Homo sapiens: one gene and its partners. The protein of the gene in region 7 interacts with the protein of the main gene of each other region in a pairwise test. Each region holds a gene or a part of one and is shown on either strand. Other genes may lie near its edges.

Region 1 (3,500 bases), on a different chromosome or scaffold from region 7:
GTTAGACAGTAAGTCTAAAATACCAATAATTAGAAATTATTTTCTGTTTAAGACCACCACTATACTTCACATCCTAAAACTATTTAGGTTTTTAATATTTTTTAAAATCAAGGGACAGGTGCAGTGGTGCATACCTGTAATCTCAGCACTTTGGGAGGTCGAGGTTGGGTGGATCAGTTGAGCCCAGGAGTTTGAGACTAGCCTGGGCAACATGGTGAAACCCCATCTCTACAAAAAAAAAAAAAAAAAAAAATATATATATATATATATATATATATATATATATAAATTAGCTGGGCGTGGTGGTGCACATATGTGGTCCCAGCTACTTGGGAGGCTGAGGTGGGAGGATCACCTGAGCCTGGGGAGGTCGAGGCTGCAGTGAGCTGAGATTGCACCATTGCACTCTAGCCTGGGTGACAGAGTGAGACCCTGTCTCAAAAAAAAAAACAAAAAACAAAAAACAAACAACACAAATTTTATCTGTCCTATCTTATGAAGTAGATTATCACAAGAAGAGAATACAGTTTCCAATTTACAGGAGTTTATACAGATTCAACTTGAGCCCCCAAATTGCCATGCCACTATGGACTATCCTACCCCCATGAGTTACCAACTGACAGTCAGATGTCACTAAATATAAATTGTTTATTTATTTATTTTTGAGACGGAGTCTTGCTCTGTTGCCCAGGCTGGAGTGCAGTGGCATGACCACAGCTCACTGTAACCTCCGCCTCCCGGGTTCAAGCGATTCTCCTGCCTCAGCCTCCCAAGTAGCTGGGTGTGTGCTACCATGCTCGGCTAATTTTTGTATTTTTAGTAGAGATGGGGTTTGACCACGTTGGCCAGGCTGGTCTCGAACTCCTGACCTCAGGTGATCCACCCGCCTCAGCCTCCCAAACTGCTGAGATTACAGGCGTGAGTCATGGTGCCCGGCCGGATGTCACTAAATTTAGAACTTGAATTTACTAACTAATATGTAGAGGGTTGTTTTTTCTCACTTCAATATGATGTTACATGAGTGCGATAAAACAGCATTTGTAAATATACTTCTATCACTCCTTAAAGCCTTCAGTAATCAAATTTGTGATCAAATGTCAACTCATCAACAAACAGCCATTTTTAAGGAAACTTCCCTAAAGTAATAAATATTGCACAGGTATTTTTTAAATTAAAACTTGTATCAATTTTCAATTCAGAGAGAAATGTTTCTGACACCTAAGTAAAGTGAGAAGCTGAGTTTTCAACAAAGGCAGCTACACACCTTTTTGTTTTTCAGACCTAACAATTATTCAGGACAGTTTGGTCTCAGTTCCCATGACTTAAGATTTTATCATTATTCCTATCTGAATATGGTAGATTGCAGTTAATACTAACTAAATGCCTAAGAATAAAATAATACAAATAATCACTGTTCTTAGACAAGCTATTTTGCCATTGTTTTTCACTTTCACTTGGAAAAAACTCGTAAGCAAAACTTAGGATTCTAAAATAGTTCAAGACCTCTGATAGGCAAGGTATGAAGAAACAGTCAAGTAAACCATCTTAAAAGCCCAGCTAATAGGGTAAGTGCCAGAAACCTATGGCAGGAATAGCCAGCAATACTTTCCCTTCTTCCGCAGACATGGTAGCATGGTATAAGTGAGGAATCAAGAGACCTGGGCTCTAGTTCCAAGTCTGCCCTTATTAGCAATGTGTCACTTCCCCTCTCAGACCCTAAATTTCACTTTCAGTTAAAAGGGAAGGCTGGGCTAAAATGATCTCCAGTCCCTTCCTACTCTAAAAATGTTATGATTCTATCCTTCTTCCAAGGCCTCAAAAATATTTTGGCTGCCACTAAAAAAAAGAGTGCTGAAAATGTTACATTTATTTTTACAACATGTTCTCAGTGCCAGCCTTTAGTATGTGTAAGTATAAACCACATGAGTTAGCAGGGGCATTCATCTCATATATAATTTACCCAGTAAATACTTAATTTCAAATTTATGGGTCTTGAACTATGTACCAAATACCATTAAGTTAAACGAAAAGATTAAAAAAAATCACGAAAGATTTACCAAGAACAAAAGCTTATCAATACAAGCACACTATTAAACCTCAATATAAAGACATTTAGAGTTGGAAGGGTTCTCAAGAGTGTAATCCCCTCAATTTAAAGATGAGGAAATAAAATGACTCACAGTGCAGGGCTCTTTTCTAGTGTACCACACGATTCCTCTTCTCTTTCCTGCTCTATCAAAAGACAGCCCAGTAGCAGAAAGAACGCCAGACAGTCAAACTGATCCGGGTTCTAGACCTAGCTCCACCATTAATTTGCTGTGGCAGCTTTTACAAGTTGCTTTCTCTCTCTAGGTTTCAGTTTTCACAACATTTTACACGAAGGAGTTTAACTAGATGTCCCTTCTAGCTGCAACAGGCTATGATCTTGCAAAATTCCTATCTGACAAAACAAAAATACACGTTGCTGAAAGAAAGTGGAATTTCTTGCCAAGAGAACAAAAAAGTTTAGGCTGCTGGTTTTAATGGAGATGTATCAGTTCAATTCAGCAACTTGGTCCTAAAGCATTTTACTCCAGAATTTACCAGGGGAGGATCTCTGTCCACCTCTCTGTCACTGCTCTCATCGCCCTCCACAGGAAAAAAAAAAAAAAATACTGGACTAGGAGTCTGAAGAGCTGGTTTCAAATCCCAGTTCTGCCACTTAAAAGCTCTCTCCTAGGACAAATTCACTTAACCGTCTCTGAGTCTAAGGTTCCTAGGCCAGGTGCGGTGGCTCACGCCTGTAATCCCAGCACTGTGGGAGGCCGAGGCGGGCGGACCATGAGGTTAGGAGTTCAAGACCAGCCTGACGAACATGGTGAAACCCCGTCTCTCCTAAAAATTAGCTGGGCGTGGTGGCGCACACCTGTAGTCCCAGCTACTCAGGAGGCTGAGGCAGGAGACTCTCTTGAACCCGGGAGGCGAAGGTTGCAGTGAGCAGAGATCGTGCCACTGCACTCCAGCCTGGGCGACAGAGCGAGACTCCATCTCAAAAAAAAAAAAAAATGTTCCTCATATGTAAAAATGAAGATAAAAATGAGAAAACCTGGGCCTGGCGAGATGGCTCATGCCTGACAGTAATCCCAGCGCCCTGGGAGACTGAGGTGGGAGGATCACTTGAAGCCAGGAGTTTGAGACCAGCCTGGGCAACATAGCAAGACCCCATCTCTAAAAAAACCTTTAGCTGAGCAGGGTGGTATGCACCTGTGGGAAGATAACTTGAGCTTAGGAGTTTGATGCTGCAGTGAGCCATGATCTCACCACCTCTCCAGCCTGGGCAACAGAGTGAGACCCTATCTTGGAAAAAAAAAAAAAGAAAAGAAAAAAGAAAATAAAGAAAACCTGACCTAAAATATCAATAAAAAAGCATTATAAATACGGCATATATTGCAAAGCTGGGCAAGTGAAGATCATCTGCCACTGTAGAAAAGTAGGCTGTACTGGAATTAAAAGTCTCTAAA
Region 2 (3,500 bases), on a different chromosome or scaffold from region 7:
TCAAATGTGCCACTATCACTCCTGATGAGAAGAGGGTTGAGGAGTTCAAGTTGAAACAAATGTGGAAATCACCAAATGGCACCATACGAAATATTCTGGGTGGCACGGTCTTCAGAGAAGCCATTATCTGCAAAAATATCCCCCGGCTTGTGAGTGGATGGGTAAAACCTATCATCATAGGTCGTCATGCTTATGGGGATCAAGTAAGTCATGTTGGCAATAATGTGATTTTGCATGTTTTTTTTTTCATGGCCCAGAAATTTCCAACTTGTATGTGTTTTATTCTTATCTTTTGGTATCTACACCCATTAAGCAAGGTATGAAATTGAGAAATGCATATATGTATAACTGTATATTTACACACATTTAGCTAAAGGCAAATACAAATAAACTTACAAATAGGCGTCCATCTCAACACATTTTTTTTCAAACATGCTGTTTTTTTTCCTTTATCCTTTTATTCAGTTATACCATATGATATTGCCATTTTTATGTTGGTAATTTCATATGGTTCAACCAGATCTGTGGTTTTCAACACTGGCTGCACAATAGGATCCCCTTACAAGTTTTTTTGGTGGTTTTGTTTTGCTTTGCTTGATTTGTTTCTTTGTTTTAGTTTCAATGCTTGAGTACCACCCTACACAAATTAAAATCTGAATTCCATGGGGTTCAGGCATTTTAAAGCTCCCCAGGTGAATCTAATGTGCAAACTTGAGAACCACCAAAGATTGTATTAAACATGATCCCATCATGCATAAAAGAAAAAACTGGCTGGGTACTATGGTTCACACCTGTAATCCTAGCACTTTGGAGGCCAATTTGGAAGCACTGCTTGAGGCCAGGAGTTTGAGACTAGCCTGGACAACATAGCAGAACCCTGTCTCTACAAAAATGAAAAGTATTTCAATAATTATGTCAATTGTTCATGGAAGAGCCAGTTTTGTTTATTCATATACAAAGTGAGTAGGCGAAGCTGAGTGGGGTGGCATGTGCCTATAGTCCCAGCTACTTGGAAGGCTGAGGCCTGAGGATCCCTTAAGCCTAGGAGTTCAAGGTTACAGCTATGAGCTATGATCACACCACTGCCTACGCAACAGAGCAAGACCCTGTCTCGAAAAAGAAAAAGAAAAAAAAAACTGACTCGGTAGTTGAAAGCAGCCTTACTAAAGCATTCCTTCCTGCCTGGAAAAAAAGTATTGCTTCTTTACTTCTGTACCAGTACACTTGTTGCCAAATTAAGCAAAAAAACTGCCAAGTAAACAAAATCAAAGTTCAGTGTTGAAACTGAGGTTTCAGACTTTCACAGAAAGTAGTTTATGTCTTAAAAGGACCTTAAAAACAGGAATCTCTCATGCTGAAATCCAGAGGTTTTAATGTAGCCATCATTGAAAACAGTGTGTTGAGGGTAAACAGTTTAGTCCTTGAGGGGTCAGTTAACTTTGTTCCACTCTGTGGCTAAAACTATCCTTTCATCCTGGCCAAAGCCTTCAGAAATAGCTCCCAGGGGCCCAAGCAAGGGAAGGTAGATGGCAGTGGTGCAAACTCGCTAATCTTGTAAAAATCACCCTAGATTCTTTCCAGTTCAGTCGTGCCTTTTTTCTGCGTATATCCTTTTTGTTTTTTGTTTTTGAGACAGAGTCTCGCTCTGTCGCCCAGGCTGGAGTGCAGTGGTGTGATCTTGGCTCACTGCAACCTCTGCCTCCCGGGTTCAAGCAATTCTCCTGCCTCAGCCTCTTGAGTAGCTGGGATTACAGGCACATGCTACCATGCCCGGCTAATTTTTGTGTTTTTAGTAGAGACGGGGTTTCACCATGTTGGTCAGGCTGGTCTCAAACTCCTGACCTTGTGATCCGCCCGCCTCCGCCTCCGCCTCCCAAAGTGCTGGGATTACAGGCATGCCACCATGCCCGGCCTTCCTCTTTTTTTTTTTTTTTTTAATTATTTTGGCATCAGTCATTTGTAAAAATGGCCATTCTATTTATTAAAGTCCAGAAAGAGAATTTCAAACCTCAGGTTGATTCATGGACTGTTTAAATATACATAAACCTATACAAAGCATTTATGGTGCTTTGGTACCTCAGTTTCTCCCTTTTCAGAAATAGTAATAAATTACCACCCATATTTACTTTATGGATTTTATATGTCAAAAATGTTCTGTGTAAAGTAGGTGTTTAATCTTTATTGTTACTTACTGCTCTTTTACCAGTTGTTATTAGTATTTCTCTACACTTATAGATGTGGCCGGCACCTGCTGGTACCTAACTCTGCAAGTATCTGATTCAATTCATTGAAGAAGATACAATGCAGCAAAGACTTATGGATGTCTAGTATATGCCAGGCATATTATTCCACTGAGTAGCTGAGGCCCATGAGGGAGGTGCCTGTCCTTGAACAGCCCTTTCCTAAAAATCATCATCATCCCATTGTAGCTGCTCCCAGAATGATTTGATTGCTCCATATGAACAAGTCCTATAACACTAGTAACAATGATACCATGAGAGACCGAGCCCCGATGGCCTAAGTAAGGACGAGACCTCAAGTCCTTTGACCCTGGATGCATTATTTCTACTATATCATAGTTCCCTCCTTGTAAGACTGATGTAAGAATCAAATGAGATTATGCAAGTTAAGCATTTAAAGCATCTGGCATAGAGTAAGGACAAAGCATTAGCTACCTCAGTACTACAATTAGTATTGTTATCATCACCCTCTAGGGAGACTTCCCTGACTTCCTTCCATGGTCACCTCTTTTCCTCTGTCATCCTATAGTTTTTTTTTTTTTGGGGGGGGGGTCTAATACCCTCTTTTGGCATTTGAAAGCTCTTATATTGCTTTTCACTTATATATGTCTTTATAGGGTTGTAAACTTCCTAAAGGAAAGTGGCTTATGTTATTCTCTGTCCTCTTCAAATCAGTGCTCAGAAAACTTTCCTATACCTCGTATAGGCACCTAATAAATATTTACTGATTTAGGGGAATGTCTGGACCTCTTCATCCCCATCTCCTAAAAAAAAAAAAAAAAAAAGAAGTTTGACATACTGCCCTATTTGTCTAGGTGTCTTCTAGGTCTATATTATATGAATATTCTCCTTACAATTCCTGCTAGGGTATTTTTTTTTTCTTTATACCTTTTTCCCCTCTACACAGTACAGAGCAACTGATTTTGTTGTTCCTGGGCCTGGAAAAGTAGAGATAACCTACACACCAAGTGACGGAACCCAAAAGGTGACATACCTGGTACATAACTTTGAAGGTATGTATGACTGTAGCATAAGCTTCTTTTTTTTTTAAACAAATGATTTAGATAATATTTTTATTGCTTTTTTTGTTAGTTATGTGACTGCCTAAAAATATAATCTGAATCTACAGTGTTTTTGCAAAACCCGAAACTTGACATAAAGAAGTAATTTGCTTCCATACCTTCCTGTGGCATGAATAAAGGCACAAAAGGGTTACCCACTTAATTGGAAATGCCTTTAGGCAAAGACAAGGAGATGATT
Region 3 (3,500 bases), on a different chromosome or scaffold from region 7:
TGTTCAAGTCCTTATATAAATTGTATCGTATTTGCATATAACTTATGTGCATCCTTCTGTATAACTTAAATCATCTCTAGATTACTTACACCTAATACAATGTAAATGCTATATAAATAGGTACACCATATTTAGGGGACAATAACAAGAAAAAAAGTGTGTACATGTTCAGTACAGATGTAGCTATCCATTTTTTTCCCTGAATATTTTTGATCTGAGGTTGCTTGAATCCACTAAAGTAGAACCCATGGATACAGAAGGCCAACTGTAATATGAAATCCTGTGTTTTAAAAGTATGTCTTTATATATTCAAGTAAAAAAAAATTAGATTTACCATAATATCCATGTAGCTGAATTCATAATGTATACTTTTTAAAGACAACTTGTTTTTCTCTCTCAGTTACAAAAGTAGACTACAAATATCTAACCCACTAAAACAGCCTTAATCTATATTTTAAGATTAGAATCCAGGTAACCTGGCTTTGTATTCTACTGACTATGCCATTCAATACAATGAAACCTTCTGAAGGTCTAAGTATTAGTCATTTATTCACATCCTACTCTCTAAGAATAACCAAGTGGCAACCCACAACATTTTCAATAACATCATTAAAATAATGTTTACTTTCTGGCAGATATACTACAACTCACTAACATTTTTAATGGTTTTGCTCTTTTATAGTTACCAGACTGGGCTATTTACTTAAATAATGATTATTTACTCACCTTCATCCTCACTATCTTCTGCAGTTACATTGCCTTCACTGGTAATGGCTTCGTCATAACTATCCTCAGTCTGAGAGTCTGTAATTTCACCTTCCTCTGGTTCACTATCAGTCTCCATGATTTTCTCATCTTTAAATGATGTTGAATTAGAGATGTTTTCATGAAGAGGAGACTCTATAGTATTTCCACTAGTTGGAACAGTGACTTTGGGGGGACTATTTTTGTGATGAATGCCTATTTTGGCCTTCTTTTTCATATTTGCGAAATTTTCTTCCTCATTGCAGCTTGTATGTTCAACACTGAAGGCTTTTTGATCCTCTGAGTTCAAATCCTGGAGAAGGGTGGGTAGATACGAGGGAACAGGGGAGAATACTCTTAAACATCACTATCTTATAACATTACATCAAGTTTCAACGAATTCGTGAAGATATGTGTCAGTAAAATAACAATGGTTACAATCTGTTCCCCCTCTCCTTCTCACATTTCCTTTCTTGGTTAATGATATTACCATCTTCTTATTATCCAAATTAAAAATCCTATAGTTATCTCTGAGATCCCCTTAACCATATATAAAATTACGAAGTGCTACAGACTTTTCTCAAAATATATCCAAATCTGTCTCTCTATTCTCAATGTCTTAACATTCCTAGTTCAGGCCCTCATCACATACTGCCTGGACTATGGGATAGCCTAGACCAATGGTGTCCAATAAAAATGTAACACAAACCATATTTGTACTTTTACATTTTCTAGTAGCCACATTTAAAAAGTAAAATTATTAATGAGATAGTTTACATAGTCTGCAACATCCAGAGTGTATTTTACACTTAACAGCACATTTGAGTTTGGATTAGCAAAACTTCAAGTGCTCAACAGCCACATGGAGCTGCTGGCTACCTTACTGGATAGTGCAGGCCTAAAGAATACCTATTCTAAATTTTCTTTTTAAACTGGTAATCAATTAGCTAGTCAACACAAATAAAATACAGAATTAGCTTTACTTATGACATGAATTTAAAGATCCAAATGTACTCAATATGTAGCAAAATTGTAGTTTTGCTAAAATTTAGTACTTCAGATTCAGCTTGATAATACATAAAAGTTTAAAGTACAAATTAACTGTGACTATCTTATTCCAAAATTTTAACTTGCCTGGCATAAGTCTTTTATTATTTATTGTACATTTATAGTTGATATGCCTTATAATAAATGAACATTTTTTAATTAACAAAAATGATGTATTTTTATCATGTACAACATGAAGTTTTGAAATACGTACACAATGTACAGTGGTTAAATTGAGCTAATTAACATGTACATTACCTCAAATACTTATTTTTCTGTGGTAAGAAACTTAAAATTTGCTCTCAGCAGTTTGCAATAATACAACACATTGTTATTAACAATAGTCACCGTGTTATACAATGGTCAAATCTATCATTTCAGCCTTAGAAAAAGTAAATAATTATTTTCCATTTTTTTCCCTTGGTTTCTAACGCACTCTCACTTTTCTTTCTACCTCAGAGCAACATGAGGCGAATTCATATGCTCTTCTGTTATTTTATAAAATATGAGAGCATCTCACACACCTTTCTTTCTTTTTTTTTTTTTTTGAGACGGAGTCTCGCTCTGTCGCCCAGGCTGGAGTGCAGTGGCGCGATCTCGGCTCGCTCCAACCTCCACCTCCCAGGTTCAAGAGATTCTACTGCCTCAGCCTCCCGAGTAGCTGGGACTACAGGCATGCGCACCACCATACCCAGGTAATTTTTTTATTTTTAGTAGAGATGGGGTTTCACCATGTTGGCCAGACTGGTCTCGATCTCTTGACCTCATGATCCATCCACCTCACATACCTATCTTTGATAACAGCGTAAGTTCAGCTTGGAGACTGGCTAAACATTCACAGTGTGATAAATTATACACACTTCTAGCAATACAAATTCACCCAGAACAAGAACAAGGGCAAGGAGCTGAAAAACCATGAGGAGCTTTTACATTATAAAATTATAGCAAAAAAGTTCCCTATCTGTATATACTCTTAAAAAAGCAGTTTCCAATCTTGTATATTTATTACTTACTGAACAACATATGCAGGGAAAGCTATTTGCCAGTACAGAACATTAGATAGTCATTAAGTGAAAAGAAAGGAGGGCTTATTTATGGGCACTGAGGCACATATGTATATTTCAAATTATTTACTCCTATCTCCCCTACTGTCTTCCTTCCACATAACCTTCACCTACAAAAAGTGAGGCTCAAAAATATCTTTAAAAATAAAGAAAACAGATGAAGATACTCTCTTGGCCTCACAGGTACCTTTTAGAATCCTCAGGAAATTCTCAAAATTCCAACAGGATTTTTCTTAAAAGTTCTTGTCGAGTGCTCAATGGTGCCCAGGCTGGAGTGCAGTGGCGTGATCTCGGCTCACTACAACCTACACCTCCCAGCCGCCTGCCCTGGCCTCCCAAAGTGCCGAGATTGCAGCCTCTGCCCGGCCGCCACCCTGTCTGGGAAGTGAGGAGTGTCTCTGCCTGGCCGCCCATCGTCTGGGATGTGAGGAGCCCCTCTGCCTGGCTGCCCAGTCTGGAAAGTGAGGAGCGTCTCCGCCCGGCCGCCATCCCATCTAGGAAGTGAGGAGCGTCTCTTCCCAGCCGCCATCACATCTAGGAAGTGAGGAGCGTCTCTGCCCGGCCGCCCATTGTCTGAGATGTGGGGAGCGCCTCTGCCCCGCCGCCCCATCTGGGATGTGAGGAGCGCCTCTGCCCGGCCGAGAC
Region 4 (3,500 bases), on a different chromosome or scaffold from region 7:
TGCCATTAACAGACAGCTGTATTTACCAAGCCGGAGTCATGGAGCTTTGAGGACCCTAACAGATCCCCAAGTCCAGCACCTTGATTTTATATTCAGGAAACCTGGGTCCCAAGAGGGTGAAGGCTGGTTCAGAGGAAAGCCAGGAAGGCAAGCCCAGTTTCCTAAGTTCTGAAGGGGCTTTGGGGGGCATCTAGGAGACTCAGAGCCCTGCAGGGCCTGCAAGGTAGTCATAGGGGGGAGTATTGTCAATTTCTTTTAAAAAACCTAATGGAAACTCTACATTTACCATGATACTGGATGATACTGACACACAAGCCAAATAACATAGAGGGGTCTGTGCCCTCTATGTGGAAAGCGAGTGACTTGCTGTGTCTGCTCTTCTCTCAGCGTTCAGTAGCCCTGGTTGTTGATTACAGTCACTGCTGAAAATGGAGAAACATTTTATTTAATACTATGCCTGGGTCTCACACCTATAATCCTAGCACTTTGGGAGGCCCAGGCAGGAGAATCACTTGAACCCAGGAGTTTAAGACCAGCCTGGGCAACATAGTGAGACTCTTGTCTCTACAGATTTTTATTTTTATTTTTTTTAATTAGGCCGGGTATGTGGCTCACACCCGTAATCCCAGCACTTTGGGAGGCCGAGGTGGGCAGATCGCTTGAGCCCAGGAGTTTGAGACCAGCCTGGGCAACATGGTGAAACTCCGTCTCTACAAAAAATACAAAAATTAGCCGGTTGTGGTGGCAAGCAACTATAGTCCCAGCTACTCAGGAGGCTGAGGCAGGAGGATCGCTTGAGCCGAGGAGTTCGAGGCTGCAGTGAGCTATGATCGATCGCACCACTGCAATCGAGCCTGGGTGACAGAGCGAGACCCTGTCTCAAAAATAATAATAAAAATTAAAAATAAATTTAAAAATGCAAAATATATACTATGTTGCGTAGATAAAATGGGAAACATAATAGAAGTGGTCCTTCATGGGGGTGAAGTTCAGAGTTGCTGAGCATTTGGCAGATGAGTAAAGGGTACCCAGAAAATGGGAAGTGATCCCAGGTTACAGATGGAGCCAGCACCTGGCACCCAGTCTATTGGCCATCCCCTGCAATGTGACTCCGAAGTGATCATACTTGAAAAGTCAACGAGACAATAGGGTACCCTCATAAAAACTTTAGGTCTAGATTTATTTTCCTTAAGGAAGTCACACTTTCAGTATTTGCTACAAGCAAACTGAAGCCATTGTTTGAGTCAGTGATGATTTATATAGCAGTCTGGTGATTGCCTTGTAAACCTTTTGGAAAATTCCTTTGGTATCCCTGGTTTGGGTTTTGTTACTAAACAAAGCAACACAGGCCATGGGGGAAATTATCTGGCATCTGTCTAAAATTAAAAGACCTTTTTGGTGTTTATTACATTGTAAAGATATCAAAGTCTTGTCCTTAAGATAAAAGAAGGTCAAGGAGGCCTTGCATTTCTGGAAAGTGCCAGAGATCCTTAGTCCAAAATCAAAATCACCACGAACTTCTTGCTAAGCTCTGGGGGCCTCCCACTCAGGCATCTGCCCAGGCCTTTCGGAACTTGGTTCTGTTGTCAGGATGCACATATGCAGGCCAGATGTGCACTGCTGGTGAACCCTTCATATCAGCAGAATGTGTTTTAATGCTGCCGAAAGCGTGGCGCCTGGGGGCCACCTCAAGGCCTGTTTGTCTGTTGCTTGATGCAGTCTGCGCCAGGACCCTCCCCTTCCCTGTGGTGCTGCGACCCTTATAATGAGCCTTCTTGCTTTACTCATAGGTGGGAAACTACCTCCGTATGTTCCGAGGTTCTCTGTACAAGAGATACCCCTCACTCTGGAGGCGACTAGCCACTGTGGAAGAGAGGAAGAAAATAGTTGCATCGTCACATGGTAAAAAAACAAAACCTAACACTAAGGGTGCGTCTTCACGAGGGTTTGTAAACCTGTTTCAAAACCACTCGCTTATGTCATGAAGATAAAACGTTTTCACTCCAGAGTGTCTTCACTGCAGCCTTGGCCTTAGTCGGGCAGGGAGCATCCCGGGGTGGGCCGCCCTGTGAGCACTCCAGGCAAGGAAGTGGCTCCAGGGAGCCATTGGTGGTCCACTGTCAGTTATTTCCAGCAGGGCCATTGGGTATGTGAGCGGGCCGGGGCCAGGACACTAGCAGGTGCTGTGAAGACATGTTGGTCTCAAAACGTTTTAGGAATGCTGCGATGCTCTGCCATCTGTCGTGGGTGTGTCGCCATAATCATCTTCCATGCAGCCCAAGTGGCGGGTGGTGGTCCCAGCTCCCACTCCCCTCTGGGGCTTTCACTGCTTGCTTCCTGGAGCACATCCATCCCATAGCACTTCATCCTGGCAGCCAGTGTGCTAGAGCCCATGTGCATGTCCCTGCTCCTGGTGGCCTGCGTGTGCCTGGGGCTTGCTAGGTACACTAGTGAAACTAGTGGGCTTTGGGTCACGGCAGCTCTGTGCAGGGTGAAAGGGTGCTCTTCAGACACTCTGGGGGCTCTGTGGGAGACACTCCCATGGAGACATTTGGGTGTGGACACAGCATGTCCTTGGGCAGGTGGCAAAACTGCTTCCCACGTGGCAATGGCGCCTTGTAGAGAGCTGCCCTGGGCCTGGGTGTGTCTGTGAGCATGTGCGCGATGCTTCGTAGTCTGCCCTGTTTGTTTGTGTCTGTAGGTGCTGCTGTGGTTTTGTCCACTGCGGGAAAGTAGTGGTTCTTTTAATGCAGGAGCCGGAGCTTCTTTTTGATCTGCTGCTATGACATTTCCACTCACTTGCTTAAAACAGTTTCCTTTTTGTTCCCCCTCCTCCCCTAGCAGAGCATCAGTCGCTAACACAGTGAGTCCCCAGCTTTGCTTCCCCCTCCGCAAGTCCCTGGGCTAAGTCTTGGGAGATACCTTCCCCATAAGCGATTGATTTCTCCAGGAGAAGCCAGACTGGGCCCACAGACAGGTAGCTCTTGACGGAGATTCCCCGGAAGAGCTAGGGGTCGAGCTGCCTAGAATCTGTCCTGCTTCCCAGGCAGCACGTGTGGACCGGCTCGGGGATAGAAATTCGTGTTTGGTGTGAAGCAGCTCTTTCCAACTCTCTGGGCTCTTGTTTTAAAAGAAAAGTATTCTTCATCTTCCATTCCATCTCCCCACCTTGCATCGTGTTGTGGATTGTGGTGGTGTCAGACCTCTTCCCACTGGGGTGTTACTCTGGGAGCTTTCTTTTCCCCTGAGTGAGGACCAAGAGAATATGTTCTGGAGTCGAGTGTCCCCGCTGGTCGTGCTGTATTGTAGTTGCTGGTGCTGCCCTGAGCACTTCCCTCTGCCCCGAGCCAGTGCTCCTGGGGCAGATTAGTCCAAATCAGTCCCATTGGAGGCTCTACCCAGCAGGACTTGTAAGTAAAGCACTCAGTCCAGATTGCCCTTTTGGAAGAGGCCAGCATTCAGCAGTAGTAAGTTTGACACCTTGCTTTTCCCACCTCCCG
Region 5 (3,500 bases), on a different chromosome or scaffold from region 7:
TCCCCACCCCTACTTTGTCTCCATGGAGAATGTCCTTAATTCTTCAAAATCGGCTCAGCTGCTACCTTCGCTGTGAAGCCTGTGGAGCCCTTCCGCTCCTCCCCAGGCAGAGTTAGCCCACCCTCCCTCTGCCACATCTGTGCAAAGTCTACATCTCTTACTCGCTGTCTCCCACTGCACTGGGCTTCTCCGACGTAGGCACAGTGATTATTTTTTCAGGATTGTTCATCTGCGTACCTCCGGCTCCCAGCTTCTCTCTTGTCTTAATTAGGTCTTTGCTTATATACAGAAACCCACTCAAACCAGCTTCAGTAATAAAGAAGGGCTTATTACAAGGACAGAAGGGATTCCCTGGAACTAAGGGGAAGGAAAACCATTAGCTTCAGGAAGGCGGGACCTGGAGGGCCAAGGGAACTTGAAGCAGCCATTCTCTGCACCCTGCCTTTCTGTATCCACAGACTGGATATCTCTGCCTTTTCAGGCACCAAGCCACCTATAGTTCCTGTATTGTGTCCCTTGGTTTCAGCCACATGGAGAGAGAGAACTTGGGGCTTGGCAGATCCAATCCCAAACTCCCAGGAGAGGATCTGATTGGCTCAGAGTGAGGCAGGTGCCCACCCTGGTCCAGTCATCTGTAGCCTACTGGGAAGGATCAAAGAGACATGCAAACAGGGTTCTCAGTGCCCCGCTCAGAGAAGGGGGATCTTCGTTAGCTTCCAAACACATCTCCTGGAATTCTTAGAGTGCCGATGTGGGTGCAGGCAGTTGGGCCTGAGCCCCAAACTTCCATCTGGACAGCAGCTGGAGAAAAAAGGCCTGGAATTGTGACTTAAAGGAGAGTCTTTTCCTGGGCAGCAGTGCTCAGGACAGGCTCTGAAGAACCTGTCAAATGTCATTCAGAGGCCTGAGGAGAGAGAGGGAGAAGAAAGCCTGAATTTTCTCACCTTGCTTTGGAGTGAGGAGAGAGGGAAGAGGAAGCCAGGAACAGGCAGAAGAGTTTTTCCCCACGAAAATCTTCATCCTCCAAGATGTAACTCTTTTCATCAGTGAAAAACCAAACCATGTCTACCTCACCTTCCCCCTGTCACTCATTCTTGACCTGTATTGATTCTGTTCTTTGTGCTTCCCTGGTAATAAACATTTTTTTTAAGCACTTACTCTGTGCCAGACATTGTGTTCACACATTTCATTTAATCTTCACTTCTATAAGATGGGTACTATTATTATTCCCATTTTATTTTATTTTTTTAAAACATATAAATTTTATTTTATTTTAGAGACAAGGTCTCACTTTGTTGCCCAGGCTGGAGTGCAGTGACTTGAACACAGCTCACTGCAGTCTCAACTTCCTAGGCTCAAATGATCCTCCCAAGAAGTTGGGACTACAGGTGCACACCACCATGCCTGGCTAATTTTTTTTTTTTTTTTTTTTTTTTGAGACATTGTCACATTCTGTCACCCAGGCTGGAGTGCAATGGCTGGGTCACGGCTCACTGCAGCTTTGAACTCCTGGGCTCAGGTAATCCTCCCACCTCAGCCTCCCTGGTAGCTAGGACCACAGGCTCATGCCACCATGCCCAGCTCAGTTTTGTATTTTTTTGTAGAGACAGGGTTTCACCCTGTTGCCCAGATTGGTCTCCAACTCCTGGGCTCAAGCAATCCTCCCATCTTGGCCTCTGAAAGTGCTGGGATTACAGGTGTGATTCACGACACCCAGTCTGTCATCTCATTTTACAGACAAGGAAACTGCAGTTTAGGCATTTACAGGCTAGATTTTAAAGCTCTTCACCTCTCTTAATCTCGGTGATTTGCTGATTTGTCTGCTTGCTGTTTGGGATTGTGAAGGTCTCACGGGCAGATAGCAGGTTACCATCCTGCCTCTTTCCCCACTGCCCAGCAAGGGCTGCCAACTGTGGAACAGATGGATGCAGGTAGAGTAGAAAAGGTGTCTGGGTGGACGTCAAGTCTCTGACGTGTGGATCTCCCCTGTGTAGCTAGCTCTGTGACTATGGACACGTCTCATCCTTTCTGAGCCTCACATTTCTCATTCAGAAACGGGGAAGATAATTCCTGCTCTGAGGCTCATATTAGATGGTGGCCGTTATGACAATTTGTGAATAGGAAAGGACCAAGGAATTTCTAAAAGATTGTTATTACCAGAATAGGCTGTAGCAACAGGGCACTAGCGGGGCACTGTGCCCGAACTCCTGCAAGAGGTGGACAAGCCTAGAGCTTCCCAATATGTGGAGTGGGACCAGGGATGACTTTCAGTGCCATTTCTTAACATTAGCTCACGTAGTGAGAAAGTTGGTTCCCTCTCAACGATATCAAGTCCAAGATTGTCCAAGGGAGAACATGTCAGTGTAGTTTCTAGTGTGTCTTTTTTTTTTTTTTTTTTTGAGACGGAGTTTCGCTCTTGTTGCCCAGGCTGGAGTGCAATGGCGCAATCTCAGCTCACCACAACCTCTGCCTCCTGGGTTCAAGAGATTCTCCTGCCACAGCTTCCCGAGTAGCTGGGATTACAGGCATGCACCACCACGCCCGGCTAATTTTGTATATTTAGTGGAGACGGAGTTTCTCCATGTTGGTCAGGCTGTTCATGAACTCCCGACCTCAGTTGATCCACCTGCCTTGGCCTCCCAAAGTGCTAGGATTACAGGCGTGAGCCACCGCGCCCGGCCTCTAATGTGTCTTTAACAACTTTCCAACACTGGTTGCCCTCCCTTTTTAACAGAGAGCTCTCAGGCTAGGCTCAGAACATTGCCTGGCAACTCCATATAGCTAAAACATAATATCATAACTGTTTTTACTGTGTTTGTTTTATTGTCATTTTCTATTTATTAAAAGTGATACTGGCTTTCCATTTATAGTAATAACATGGTTTCTATTGAAAATAGTTGCATTAAAGTTAAAAGTGTCAATTTATTTTTATCTGTTTGTTTATTTATCGAGACTAGATCTCACTCTGTCGCTCAGGCTGGAGTGTAGAGGCCTGTTCTTGGCTCACCTCAGCCTTGACCTCCTGGACTCAAGTGATCCTCCCACCTCAGCCTCCCAAATAGCTGGGACTATGGGTGTGAGCCACTGCCCCTAGCCAGAGTGTCAATTTAAAGAAAATAAGTAATAAACAGTACAAGAGTCTGTAGATTTGTTTTGTTTGTTTGTTTGTTTTTTGAGACGGAGTCTCTGTCGCCCAGGCTGGAGTGCAGTGGCACGATCTTAGTTCACTGCAGCTTCTGCCTCCTGGGTTCAAGCGATTCTCCTATCTCAGCCTCCCAAGTAGCTGGGATTACAGGTGCGTGCCACCATGCCCGGCTAATTTTTGTATTTTTAGTTTGACCATCCAGACGGGGTTTGACCATATCGGCCAGGCTGGCCTTGAACTCCTGACCTCAAGTGATCTGCCTGCCTGAGACTCCCAAAGTATTGGGATTACAGGCGTGAGCCACCGTGCCCAGCCTAGGAGTCTGTAGATTTGGCAGAAATCATTGAGGTGACAC
Region 6 (4,199 bases), on a different chromosome or scaffold from region 7:
CACACCTATTAGGGCTAAAATTCTAAGGATGGGGCACGGAAATCTGTGTTTCATCAAGCCCTCTAAGTGATTTAGATACATGTAAAGTTCATCGAGAATCAGAGCATCACACCTGAACTGCACATTAGAATCACTTGGGTCACTTTCCACAGAAATGCTGTGGCCCCATGCCCAGAGATATTAATTTAATTGGACTGGGATAAAGCCCTGGTATCAGTACTTTCTCAAGTCTCAGGTGATTACGATGTGATTTTACTGTGCAGTCAGGGTTGAGGCTACTTCTGTAGAACAGCTGAGGCTGGGGGCTAGGACAAGGGCTGGAAGGATCTTACAGGTGGTGTGCAAAAGCCCAGAGGTCAGAGAAAGCCTGATGTAGTGTGTTTGGGGACCGGACAAGGCTACATACAACAAAACCCCATGATTTAAAATAAGGTTTGTAGATATAAGTTCATTTGTTCATTGTAGTACTTCTTAAACTTTAACAAGCATAGAAATCATCTGAGGGTCTCATAGAAACACACAGATTCTGATTTGGTAAGTAGGAGCAGGGGACTGAGGTTCTGCATTTCTATAAGATCAGCGATGCTGATGTTGCCGGTCTGCAGACTGCACCTCACCTTAGCAAGGTTCTATTGCCCCAGCTTTCCCTGAGGGTACATGTCAGTGGATGGGAACTGCAGAAGGATGTATCTATGCATTAGTCCCAGGGCTGACATAAGGGCACCTAGTTGGGGTGAACTGTGGATGCCCATTGTTGTGTGGACATGTTTTCATGGTAGGGAGGAAAGACGCAGCCTCGCCCAACCTCCTAGCCTGCTCTTCTGATTATTATCCATCAAGGTCGTACTGCTTTTAGCTCAGCAGTAACTCCCCTCTTTCTCTCCTCGTCCCTCCCACGCCAATCTAGCTGAGTGCCTCCCCCGGCCAGGCCAGCCGACCAGATCATTAAGTGACCGCCGGAGTGCTCCGTAACGCGCCAGCCAGCCAGTGAGGCGCTGGGCGAGGCGGGGGCTCTCCTGGGACCCGTCTCCCTCTTCCCACCTTCCCCCGCTGACCGCGGCGGTGCCTGCGGCAGAGCCTCCCTCTGCAGCAGCCCCTTGCACTTGGCTCGCACTTCTGGGCGCTGTCCATGGTTGCAGCAGCTTTCGGCGCGCCACGTCAGGAGGCCGCAGCACGGCCCTGCGATTGGCGGAGGAGCCCCTCGCCATACCCCTGCACCTCCGCCCACGCGCCACGGCGCCCGAGGCGCGTGCCAGAGAGCGTGCCCGGCGCGCCCCGGGGCTCCTGGGCGGCACACCCACTTTCCTTATTAGGGCAGAGTCGGGTGCCCAGAGCCGGCGGCCGGGCGAGGGGTGGGGCGGGGAGCCCTGGGCGAGACGGTCGAGGGCGCAAGCACAGCCTCCGCCGCAGCCGCCTCAGAGCGGCAGGAGGGAGCAGTCGGTCGCTGCGCCCCGGCGGGCCACTTTCCCGGGACCCCGCTCGTCTTCCTTGGGCCGAGATTTTCCACTGCGCCCCTCCGAGTACCCGGGTTCCAAACCCCTAGCCACGACATGGAAGAATTTTTGCAACGCGCCAAATCTAAACTGGTAAGTTGAGTGAGCAAAGCTGTGTGTGTGCGCGCGCGCGTATGCTAATGGAAAGGTGGAGAGGAAAAGGTGTTGCAGCAGAGGAGGAAGAAACAACTTTGCCACGGAGTTATCAGGGTGTGCGGGTTGTCTCCTGGAAGAAATCTCAGGAACTCTGGCTCTTAAAGCTGGCAATCTGTCTCCAGAATCCTCCACCGCAACCAGACGAGGTGCAGAGCTGAAGGAGGTTGTGGCCTGGCTGAAGTTGGGTCGCTTCAGTCCAGCTTCGGTCCCTAAATCAGCAGTTTGCTCCTGAAAGCTAAGGGATAAATGGGTGTGGTCTTCCTTGAGATAAAGAGCCCAGCCTTCTGCAGATGCATTACGTGTAAGTGTAAAAGGAAAAAAAGAGACCCTTAGAACTGTACTTCAGCTGGAGGTGACAAAAGTGAGGAAGTCAGGGTGCTGGGTAGCAAGGACATGTGTGGTACTGGAGAATCCACAGAATAGAGCTTGCTCCACTGCAGGAGTTAGGGATATTCTAGTGTGTCTTGTGTCTCGCTAATTCCTGTTCACATCTGTAAATTGGGGCGGAGGCAGAAGGGGAAAGCTCTAACTGTTGGTGTTCTGGAGTTTACCAGATCATCGTTCTCCCGGGAGCAGACCTGTGTGTTAGCCCATGTTTACCATATCACTGTCCAAACAGTGAATGGGCAACTCCACTGTGTATGTTAACAGTTGCTACACATTCTGAAACAACAGACTCTAGCAGTTTCTTAATTCCAAACTGTTTTGGCTCTCCAGCACAGCAGTAATAAACATAATGGAAATGTTTCTGTTTTGGCAGAAAAAAAAAGAAAAGCCTGTACTCATTTAGAAGCAATATCTTTAAAGAACTGTAAAAGCACCTTTTACAGGCCTGGCATAGAAAGAAATGCATAATTTATGATGCCTTTAACCTTTAAGCCTTCATAGAAGCCAAAATGTAAAGTCTGCATTAAGGTAATGTTTTAATCACAAGGCAGGATATTTGCAGGGTTATTACTGTAACTCATTTACCCTCGCACAACAAAGGGAGTGCAGGAAGGGAGGGCCCAAAGATGCCTGAACCACCATTCAGAGTGCAGACGGAAGTGTGATCCTTACAATGGTCTAACTGTAACTATCTTGTAAAAGACCATTAAAGTTGATAAGTGCTTATATAAAACTTTCTACCTGAAACCTCCCAGAGAGTTGAACGTTTGTGGAGATTTCCGAGTTGAGGAAGTTTGTGATCATCTCTGTGTTTATTGACCCTTTTATAGTTTTACTAGAGCACATGGATGAAAATACTAATTTCAGAAACTCAAGTAAGTATTTGGCATTTCTGATAGTATAAGTACATGTTCTGTTCTTTACCTAGTAATGAAGGAGAAATGTTCAAAAATGAAAGACAATTTTGGCAACTGTGCGTGTGTGTGTATGAAAATGGTAATCAATGACAAACACAGAGTTCTGGGCTGTATCTGTTTTTCACTCCCATAACATTTATTTATCAATATTTTCACAATAAACATTTAGACTGTGGGGTCTGATATGAGCAAGAGGTTTGTCTCAATTCTGAGGAGCAGTTGCTGGAATGGAAGTTTCCCTATTTCCGAGTAATGAGTTGAAAGTAATCTGTAATTTATTTACCCTTCATTAGACGAGCAATTGCTCTACATCATTAAAAAAAAAAGGACAGGAAAGAGAAGCGGTTGTTTGAAATATTGTTACCAGTTTCATGTCTTAGCCAGAACAATTACTGCTAATTTTATCGTTTCTTGGAATAAGCTTCTTCTAGAAATCATGATTAACCTTTCACATCCAGCCACAGCAAAGGTGTGTTGGTCACTTTTAGTGTCATATTTTCCTGAGAAGTTACATTTTCTAGGTAATAAGATTTTTACTTAATGTATGACACTCAAATATAGTAGTAGATAACATTCTCCTTTAGAGGGTAGATAACCTTTTTCTTGGAGAAAAAGAATTAAGTCAATGTCATTCACTTGTGGGAAATTTATTTATAATAAAAAGGTAAGATTTGGCCGGGTGTGGTGGCTCACGCCTGTAATCCCAGCACTTTGGGAGGCTGAGGCGGGTGGATCACCTGAGGTCAGGAGTTCGAAACCAGCCTGGCCAACATGGTGAAACCTCATCTCTACTAAAAGTACAAAAGTTAGCCAGGCATGGTGGCGTGTGCCTGTAATCCCAGCTACTAGGGGGGCAGAGGCAGGAGAATCACTTGAACCTCGGAGGCGGAGGTTGCAGTGAGTCGAGATTGTGCCACTGCACTCCAGCCTGGGCAACAGAGCGAGACTCAGTCTCAAAAATAAAATAAAATAAAATAAAATAGTAAGATTTTTAAAAATTCAGCCAATCCTTTGGAAAACATTTTAAGGTGAAGAAATTTACCATGCTGATTTTTACTTAAGCCTTATTAGACCAGAATTAGAATGTAGGAGCTATGTTTTAAATGTTTTTCTTTAGAAGTTTAGCTATATGATACCTAAACAAACAAACAAAAAAGCCTAATTACTAGTTTGGTTTTTTTTTTTCCTATTTGGCTTAATTGCTTTGTTATTCTGTGGGCATTATATATATTTTTTAATGGTTTGA
Region 7 (3,500 bases):
ACATCTGGACCAAGGTGAAAGACTGAACCTGTCCTGCTCCATCCCAGGAGCACCTCCAGCCAACTTCACCATCCAGAAGGAAGATACGATTGTGTCACAGACTCAAGATTTCACCAAGATAGCCTCAAAGTCGGACAGTGGGACGTATATCTGCACTGCAGGTATTGACAAAGTGGTCAAGAAAAGCAACACAGTCCAGATAGTCGTATGTGGTGAGTATATTGTTGCTGACTCAGAGGACATCCAGGGTTGAATGGGAGAAAGGAAATTTATCTGCAGCTGCCGCCCTCTCCGGTCTGAGCAGACTCAGGCAGGGTAAGAACTAGAGGGAGAGAAGTGCGAAATCAAAGGCCAAAGAAACAAGGAGGTATTCCTGCTCAGAACACTGATTCACTGATGATGATGTGGCCTCTGACTTGCTAAGATTCTGGCAAGATTCTGCCTCCTGGAGCAAGTACCCACCCAAAAGTTCAGGAAGGAAACACTACTTAGTCAATGTTAAACTTTTCTTTTTTTTTTTTTTGAGACGTGTCGCCCAGGCTAGAGTGCAGTGGCACGATAGCTCACTGCAACCTCTGCCTCCTAGGTTCAAGTGATCTCCTGCCTCAGCCTCCCAAGTAGCTGGGATTACAGGTGCCCACCACCATGTCTGCCTAATTTTTGTATTTTTATTTTTATTACTTTTATTTATTTATTTATTTATTTTTTTGAGATGCAGTCTCGCTCTGTCACCCAGGCTGGAGTGCAGTGGCACAATCTGGGCTCACTGCAAGCTCCGCCTCCTGGGTTCACGCCATTCTCCTGCCTCAGCCTCCCAAGTAGCTGGGACTACAGGCACCCGCAACCACGCCCGGATAATATTTTTTTGTATTTTTAGTAGAGATGGGGTTTCACCGTGTTAGCCAGGATGGTCTCCATCTCCTGACCTCGTGATCTGCCTGCCTCAGCCTCCCAAAGTCCTGGGATTACAGGCCTGAGCCACCACACCCGGCCAAGAATATCAAAATTCCATTTTTTAAATCTGTATCCTGGCTAACCCAAAAGGGTAAGACTTCCAGTGGACAGAATGTAGGTATTTGACCACCAGGAGCTGGGCTTCTCAGGCCTGAATGTGCATGCAAGACCTGGTTAAAATACAGGTTATGATTCAGTATTTTAGGCCCAGATGGGGCCAGGTTCTGCATCTCTAACTAGCATTTTGGTGATGTGGATGCTGTTGGTCTCTGGACCACACTTTGGGTGGCGAGATTCTGGTTGATTATAGAACTCCAGTCAAGTTGTCACTGTCACTATATTATTCAGTCACGATCCTTTCATTTAACCTGTGGCTGTGTTTTATCCAGCTAAGATTTTATTATAGCTTCAACTGAACCAGGATTTTAGCCTATTTTTAATGCTCTAACCACCTAACTCAAAAGGCAGGAATGCAAGAGACAAATGTGTGTTATAACGTTTTATTTTATTTTTTGTTCTTGGGAGGAGGAAATCTCATTGTATAAGGTTTAAATAAACTAATGCCTAAATAATGACCTAATATAATTCTTATCTGTTAAGAGGCTGAAGCACTAAGAAGACTTTTTTTATCTTTTTTTTTTTTTTTTTTTTTTGAGATGGAGTTTTGCTCTTGTTACCCAGGCTGGAGTGCAATGACATGATCTCGGCTCACTGCAACCTCTGCCTCCCGGGTTCAAGCGATTCTCCTGCCTCAGCCTCCCGAGTAGCTAGGATTACAGGCATGTGCCACCTTGCCCAGCTAATTTTGTATTTTCAGTAGAGACGGGGTTTCTCTACATTGGTCAGGCTGGTCTTAAAGTCCTGACCTCAGGTGATCTGCCCACCTCGGCCTCCCAAAGTGCTGGGATTACAGGCATGAGCCACCGTGACTGGCTGAGAATAATTTAAAAACATATATATTGGCTGGACCTGGTGGCTCACACCTGTAATCCCAACAATTTGGCAGGCCAAGGTGGGTGGATCACCTGAGGTCAGGAGTTTGAGGCCAGCCTGGCCAACATGGTGAAACCCCCTCTCTACTAAAAATACAAAAGTTAGCCGGGTGTGGTGGCACATGCCTGTAATCCCAGCTACTCGGGAGGCTGAGGCAGGAGAATCCCTTGGACCCAGGAGGTGGAGGTTGTGGTCAGCTGAGATTGCGCCATTGCACTCCAGCCTGGGTGACAGAGCAAGACTCGGTCTCAGAACACACACACACACACACACACACACACACATATATGCTCAGCCAGGTGTGGTGGCTCATACTTATAATCCCAGCACTTTGGGCAGCTGATGTGGGAGGATCACTTGAGTCCAGGAGTTCAAGACCAGCCTGAGCACATAGTGAGACCCTGTCTCTACAAAAAATAAAGAATTAGCCAGGTGTGGTGTGCACCTATAGTCCCAGCTACTCGGGAGGCTGAGGTAGGAGGATTGCTTGATTCTGGGAGGTTGTAGTGAGCTGTCATCGCACCAGTGCACTCCAGCCTGGGTAATAGAGTGAGACCCTGTCTCAAATACACACACACACACACACACACACACACACATTTTGTTGGCTACTTGTTGTACTTTTTCTATGTTTTCTGTGTCTTTGCTCAACACAAGAAAAGTATATTATGTGTGCATGTGCGTGTGAGATATGGTAAAATATGAACATGTATTTCTGGGGATGTAATGTTTTCCTTGAATTTCTGTCATTCTCTGTTTTGCTTATTGTACTTCTCTTTCCCTTTCCCTTCTCACCACACACACACACACACACACACACACACACACACAGCCTGTCAGTCTCATAGGTGTCCTATAAAGGTAAATAAGGCAGGCAGGCATTTGAAATTACAGCAGGGATAGAAAGCAAAGCTCAGGCTTTGGAGGAGGAACCTCTTGTGCTGGATGCTTTGCTTTTACCTTCAGTGCCTTTTGGATTGTTTCTCCCTCTGTTCTAGAAATGCTCTCCCAGCCCAGGATTTCTTATGATGCCCAGTTTGAGGTCATAAAAGGACAGACCATCGAAGTCCGTTGCGAATCGATCAGTGGAACTTTGCCTATTTCTTACCAACTTTTAAAAACAAGTAAAGTTTTGGAGAATAGTACCAAGAACTCAAATGATCCTGCGGTATTCAAAGACAACCCCACTGAAGACGTCGAATACCAGTGTGTTGCAGATAATTGCCATTCCCATGCCAAAATGTTAAGTGAGGTTCTGAGGGTGAAGGTGATAGGTAAGTTGCTGTGCTGTGAGAAGAAATCATGTGGGCTTGGGGCATTCTTTCACGCCCAGGGACTGTGGGAACAATAAGAGAAGTAGGGGGCCAGGTGCGGTGGCTCATGCCTGTAATCCCAGCACTTTAGGAGGCCAAGGCCGGTGAATCATTGAGGCCAGGAGTTCAAGACCAGCCTGGCCAACATGGTGAAACCCCATCTCTACTAAAAATACAAAAATTAGCTGGGCATGGTGGCGTGCGCCTATAATCCCAGCCACTCGGGAGGCTGAGGCAGGA

Evidence for each region.
Region 1: the proteins of PECAM1 (region 7) and WDR44 interact in binary tests that used the Homo sapiens proteins (3 or more experiments, as listed by UniProt).
Region 2: the proteins of PECAM1 (region 7) and IDH1 interact in binary tests that used the Homo sapiens proteins (3 or more experiments, as listed by UniProt).
Region 3: the proteins of PECAM1 (region 7) and AGGF1 interact in binary tests that used the Homo sapiens proteins (3 or more experiments, as listed by UniProt).
Region 4: the proteins of PECAM1 (region 7) and SMARCB1 interact in binary tests that used the Homo sapiens proteins (3 or more experiments, as listed by UniProt).
Region 5: the proteins of PECAM1 (region 7) and RIMS3 interact in binary tests that used the Homo sapiens proteins (3 or more experiments, as listed by UniProt).
Region 6: the proteins of PECAM1 (region 7) and PRUNE2 interact in binary tests that used the Homo sapiens proteins (3 or more experiments, as listed by UniProt).

The regions. Positions count from the first base shown.
Region 1 is NC_000023.11:118,349,106-118,352,605, reverse strand, and holds part of WDR44 (WD repeat-containing protein 44), read right to left. Parts: intron 1-3,500. UniProt on the Homo sapiens protein: Downstream effector for Rab11 which regulates Rab11 intracellular membrane trafficking functions such as endocytic recycling, intracellular ciliogenesis and protein export.
Region 2 is NC_000002.12:208,245,072-208,248,571, reverse strand, and holds part of IDH1 (isocitrate dehydrogenase [NADP] cytoplasmic), read left to right. Parts: coding exon 1-203; intron 204-3,147; coding exon 3,148-3,253; intron 3,254-3,500. UniProt on the Homo sapiens protein: Catalyzes the NADP(+)-dependent oxidative decarboxylation of isocitrate (D-threo-isocitrate) to 2-ketoglutarate (2-oxoglutarate), which is required by other enzymes such as the phytanoyl-CoA dioxygenase.
Region 3 is NC_000005.10:77,043,904-77,047,403, reverse strand, and holds part of AGGF1 (angiogenic factor with G patch and FHA domains 1), read right to left. Parts: intron 1,058-3,500; coding exon 727-1,057; intron 1-726. UniProt on the Homo sapiens protein: Promotes angiogenesis and the proliferation of endothelial cells. Able to bind to endothelial cells and promote cell proliferation, suggesting that it may act in an autocrine fashion.
Region 4 is NC_000022.11:23,789,966-23,793,465, forward strand, and holds part of SMARCB1 (SWI/SNF-related matrix-associated actin-dependent regulator of chromatin subfamily B member 1), read left to right. Parts: intron 1-1,790; coding exon 1,791-1,929; intron 1,930-3,500.
Region 5 is NC_000001.11:40,655,683-40,659,182, reverse strand, and holds part of RIMS3 (regulating synaptic membrane exocytosis protein 3), read left to right. Parts: exon of another isoform or gene 1-1,150; intron 1,151-3,500. UniProt on the Homo sapiens protein: Regulates synaptic membrane exocytosis.
Region 6 is NC_000009.12:76,903,315-76,907,513, reverse strand, and holds the start of PRUNE2 (protein prune homolog 2), read left to right. Parts: upstream 1-1,399; 5' UTR 1,400-1,550; coding exon 1,551-1,586; intron 1,587-4,199. UniProt on the Homo sapiens protein: May play an important role in regulating differentiation, survival and aggressiveness of the tumor cells.
Region 7 is NC_000017.11:64,359,861-64,363,360, reverse strand, and holds part of PECAM1 (platelet endothelial cell adhesion molecule precursor), read left to right. Parts: coding exon 1-212; intron 213-2,945; coding exon 2,946-3,221; intron 3,222-3,500. UniProt on the Homo sapiens protein: Cell adhesion molecule which is required for leukocyte transendothelial migration (TEM) under most inflammatory conditions.